Regions from separate parts of the Homo sapiens genome. Here region 2 is linked to region 1. Evidence: fine-mapped expression QTL. Tissue or cell type: whole blood. Region 1 holds a variant in brackets; the other region holds the start of a gene. All regions are shown on one strand. Distances are between the middles of the regions.

The links. PIP is the estimated chance that this variant, and not a neighbour inherited with it, causes the effect.
Region 2: MMP17 starts here. The variant in region 1 is fine-mapped to the expression of MMP17 in whole blood (TOPMed, PIP 0.95).

Annotation. Positions count from the first base shown.
Region 1 is chr12:131,626,641-131,629,393 of GRCh38, forward strand. No RefSeq gene overlaps it. Among named protein-coding and RNA genes, the nearest start is that of LINC02414, 20 kb to the right of the region's middle. The variant T/C (reference allele first, on the strand shown) is at 1,661.
Region 2 is chr12:131,827,286-131,829,910 of GRCh38, forward strand. MMP17 (matrix metallopeptidase 17) reads left to right here and starts at 1,108. Exons shown (of 10, transcript NM_016155.7): 1 at 1,108-1,368. The coding sequence starts at 1,210. RefSeq lists a silencer at 973-1,102.

The DNA.
Region 1 (2,753 bases):
CCACCCGAGACCACAGCCACTCCCCTCTCCCCATCCACCCGAGACCACAGCCACTCCCCTCTCCCCATCCACCCGAGACCACAGCCACTCCCCTCTCCCCATCCACCCGAGACCACAGCCACTCCCCTCTCCCCATCCACCCGAGACCACAGCCACTCCCCTCTCCCCATCCACCCGAGACCACAGCCACTCCCCTCTCCCCATCCACCCGAGACCACAGCCACTCCCCTCTCCCCATCCGCCCGAGACCACAGCCACTCCCCTCTCCCCATCCGCCCGAGACCACAGCCACTCCCTTCTCCCCATCCACCCGAGACCACAGCCACTCCCTTCTCCCCATCCACCCGAGACCACAGCCACTCCCCTCTCCCCATCCACCCGAGACCACAGCCACTCCCCTCTCCCCATCCGCCCGAGACCACAGCCACTCCCCTCTCCCCATCCGCCCGAGACCACAGCCACTCCCCTCTCCCCATCCACCAGAGACCACAGCCACTCCCCTCTCACCATCCGCCCGAGACCACAGCCACTCCCCTCTCACCATCCGCCCGAGACCACAGCCACTCCCCTCTCACCATCCGCCCGAGACCACAGCCACTCCCCTCTCACCATCCACCAGAGACCACAGCCACTCTCTTCTCCCCATCCGCCCGAGACCACAGCCACTCCCCTCTCCCCATCCGCCCGAGACCACAGCCACTCCCTTCTCACCATCCACCCAAGACCACAGCCACTCCCCTCTCCCCATCCACCCGAGACCACAGCCACTCTCTTCTCCCCATCCGCCCTAGACCACAGCCACTCCCCTCTCCCCATCCGCCCGAGACCACAGCCACTCCCCTCTCCCCATCCGCCCGAGACCACAGCCACTCCCCTCTCCCCATCCGCCCGAGACCACAGCCACTCCCTTCTCCCCATCCACCCGAGACCACAGCCACTCCCCTCTCCCCATCCACCCGAGACCACAGCCACTCCCTTCTCCCCATCCACCCGAGACCACAGCCACTCCCCTCTCCCCATCCACCCGAGACCACAGCCACTCCCCTCTCCCCATCCACCCGAGACCACAGCCACTCCCCTCTCACCATCCACCCGAGACCACAGCCACTCCCCTCTCACCATCCACCCGAGACCACAGCCACTCCCCTCACCCCATCCACCCGAGACCACAGCCACTCCCTTCTCCCCATCCACACTTAAATGTACAGAGGGAAAACCACAGCATCCTTTCTACTCCAATTCACAGTTCACTGCATCCCGTTTCTCCATGGAGTGAGTACTCAATGCTTGGAAGTATTTACTAATTGCCAGATTACATTCCCCACAACAAAAAACGTGTTTGAAATTTAAATAGCAACGTAATTCTTGTGTCTAAAGAGCTCCAAGTGTTAAAATACTTTTCTGGATCCAGTTATGGTCCCATTTTTAGTAACAGGCAATTCTTCCAAACAACATGAGGAATCAAATATTTATATTATGTCATGTGTACATTTCCATCGCATATACATGCTTACATCTATATAAATATACGGCATAAATCGATTTACATAATGCATGTGTAAATATTGACATATGGGATATGTAATATGGTGTGTGTTATTTATTTATGTGATTAATATATTCAAATTTTTAGAGTTATTTTAAAGGAAAGTACACCTTG[T/C]GGAAATGGATTGGGAAATTTCAGGAGTCTCATTTGGAGGGCGCCCTGCGGTCTCTGCGCCCCCTCCCAGGACGTGCCTCTGGGGGATTCGGGATGGGGGGGGTTGTCCTTCCTGGGAAAAACAGGAGCTGGGAAGTCATAACAGGGAAGGGAGACCAGGGAGCTGACTGCAGGCTCCTTTCAGGCAGGTATTTTTAGGACTTTAGGCGGCCATGCTGATGCCCTGGGTGGTCCCTGAGGGAGCGCCCGCCTCGGGGTCCCGCAGACTCAGGGGCCCTGCCTGGGCCCTGCCTGGGATTTTCCTGCCAAGTCCATGGTCTCCTTGGGCTCCCTCCGCAACTGTGCCCCCGTTTCCTGTGCTCATCCCACACCCAGCCTGGCCCCGAACACCGTGGGGCTTTTGTTCGGGGCCCCGCACACCGGACCTCAGGATTCCATCCTCCCAGAACCATGGCCACAGAATAAGGTCCGCCAAGATGGATACCGAACGCGCCTCAAACACCTGGGGGGCGGACGTGTGAGGAGCTGGCCTCTCTCCACCCCCAGCCGCCCTTCAGCCCGGCCTCCCTCTATCCTGGACGCCTCAGCCCCTCCTCACTCTGCACCTGCTGGTCCTCAGCCCTTGGGCCCTCCCATTCCTGTGCCCTCCCAACTCCACACCAGCGGGGTGGGGCTGAGGGCTGCAGGACCACTCTACCCCCAACCTCATGCTGTGACAGGCTGAGGGGGAGCCGGGTGCCCTTTGGCCGTGCCCCATTTGTGGTCAGAGACCCCACGTCCTCCGTGGCTGGGCACATGGGCTCTGTGGGGCATCTGAGTCCATTGAATTTGAACACCAGGTCCCAGGACTTAGAACTCAAGGACAGCCCTGCCCTGTGCGATGCTGAGAGGTGCCTGGGGCATCGCAGAAACAGCTTCCCTGAAGGCTAGACTCAACAAGGCCTCCTAGGGTGACCTGCTGATCCCGGGACCCTGCTCCCTGGGAAGCCCCCCAGTGTGGCCCCTGCCCCTCTGCTGACACCCCTTGATCTCCACCCTGGCCTTGGCCCTGGCCCTGGCCCTGCCTTGTCGACAGCTCCTGGGTCATCTCAAA
Region 2 (2,625 bases), 200 kb after region 1:
TGTTCAGACCGGGCCAGGGAGGCTCTGAGGGCAGCAGGGACAGGATGGGCCAGAGTACCCAGGGAAGCGGGGGGGGGGGGGGGGGGGTGGTTGGGGGGAGTCGGCCCTCACAGGAGGGGAGGGGCACCACTTCCCTGAGACCAGTTCTGGTAAAAGGGGCCGAGCCTCAGTTTCCCTGTCCGTAGAATGAGACCTCAGTCCTGACAGTACCAGCTGCGATTTGGGGTGGTGGAGCAGGAGGGCCTGGGAAGGAGGGGAAGCCATGCTGTCCAGCACGAGGAGAAGCTGAATAAAGGCAAGGGTTACCCTTGAACCTCACCCCCTGCCCTCTCCCAAGATCTCCCACTCGGTGGGCAGCCTGTACGCAACTTGCACGAGTTCAATCCACACAAGCGCCTGCTCGGGCTCTGACCCTGGCTCTGCCGCTTGCCCGCTCCAGGACCTCCCATAAGTTACTTCATTTCTTTGGGCCTCAGTTTCTTTGTCTGCGAAATGGAAATCATAGTTTTCATCTCATAAATGTTGTAAGTAAATGAAATTATTTATGTAACTCCTGGGCATGTGCCAGGCACACGCTGCGCTCCAACAAACATTACAAGTTAACATTCTCGCTCCCAGGCCCGCAGGGACCGCAGAGCCTCCGCCGAGGACCCCAGCCCCCCCAACACCCGCCCTCGCCCTCCAGTCCCCCGCGCCCCCCAAGCCCCACCCTCCCTCTCCCGCGGTCCGCGGGCTCCACCAAGCGCCCACCTGCTGCGCTGCGGCGGCGGCTCCGGGGCCTGAACCCGGGTCTGAACCCGGGCCTCGGCGCCGTGGGGGGTGGACCCGGGAGCGCGGCCGGAGAGGGGAGTCAGGGTCAGCTCCCCGCAGGCGCCCCGACCCCCGCCTCCGCGCCCATCCCGCGCGTCCCCGCCGCCCCAAGAGCGTCCTAAGACACCCGGGGAAACGCCTTCCCTGTGATGCCGCGGACCCAGTCCCGTCGCGGACACGGCGGGGCGGGCGGGGGTGGCAGCGTCCGAGGCGGCGCGGGCCCTTTAAGGCGGCCGGCCTCGTTAGCATACATTTGCATGGCCCCGCCCCGCCGCTTGAGGCTGCCGCGCGGGGCTCAGTCCGGCGGGGGCGCCGCGGAGAGCGGAGGGCGCCGGGCTGCGGAACGCGAAGCGGAGGGCGCGGGACCCTGCACGCCGCCCGCGGGCCCATGTGAGCGCCATGCGGCGCCGCGCAGCCCGGGGACCCGGCCCGCCGCCCCCAGGGCCCGGACTCTCGCGGCTGCCGCTGCCGCTGCTGCTGCTGCTGGCGCTGGGGACCCGCGGGGGCTGCGCCGCGCCCGCACCCGCGCCGCGCGCCGAGGACCTCAGCCTGGGAGTGGTGAGCGCGCGGGCGGGACGGGCGCGGAGCTCCTGGGCCGGAGCCGGGGGTCTCCGCGGGCCGGGTGGCGGGGACCGGGAAGACCCCAGCAGTGCACGTCGGCGTCGCGCGGGAGCCCTGGCGCCCTGGACCCATTTCCTGGGTGGGGAGACTGAGGCAGGGACGCGGGCTGAGCGACCGGGCGAGCGCACGCGAGTCCTGGGGAGGCGCCGGCTGCCGTCCCGGCTCCGTGCGCTGGGAGCGCGCCGCAGCCGCAGGAGCCCGTGGAGTTGTGAGGGGGTCGCCCACCCGGAGCCCGGGTCGCCGGCTTGCAGCAGCCCCGGAGCAGCCGGGCTGGGCGAGAGCAGGCATCGCGGCCGCCCCGAGCTCTGCGCGCTGCGTGCGTTCCGGGTGGGAGTGGCGGGGGCAGGAGCACGCACCCACAAAGCGAGGAAGGGCAGGGGCTACGGAGTGGGGGCACCCCGAAAGCCTTGAGCCCCCGAGTTTGCTCGGTTGAGGGTGTTGGGGGCACAGGGATGCTGGCCCCCAGCTCCCCACTGGACAAGGACCTGGCCCTCAGCCTCCTTCCCCTCCACCCCAGGTCGGCCAGGCTGGCCCTGCCTTGCCCTGGTACAGTGCTGAGCCGGGGGCGCGGGGAGAGCCTTCCTCACTCCACACCCAGTAGCTGTCCCCAGCTCAGCTTAGAAACCCTGCCTGGGGGCAGCGACGTGGCCTCTTCCTACAGCCCCCTCCCCTGTTCCGCAGCCGGGACTCGCGTCTCCTGTGGACCCGGAAGATTTAGAGCACACGTCGTGGGGTCAGCGCCCCCCCGCTGGGGCGGCCGGGTGAACTCCCGCTGGGTTCGTTGGTTCCTTCTGAGGCTCCTGCCCCACCGCTGCCTTCAATGGACTCCTACCCAGGGAGTCGGGCCAGGAGCCGAGGCCTCCCCGCCCCACACAAGTACTCGGCCTGGCCCTCGTCCGCGGACAGTCTCCCAGTGGGGTCCTGGCAGGGCCCCTCGCCCAGCGCAGTGGACATTCAGGAGCTCCAAAACCTTGGGGTCCAAGCAAGTCAGCGCAGGTGTATTTCAGGCAGTCGAGGCATATGGAGGGGCCACTTGGGTGGCACCCGCAGCCCCTGTGGTTGGCAGGACTTGGCCAGGGGGTCTGGATGGGAAGCCGATTTGGCCACCGTTTGCCCCAGGCCCCGAAGCCATCTGGGAGGGTGCTGGCCACTGTCCCTGCTGCCCGCGTCCAGGTGCCTGCAGGTCCCCACAGT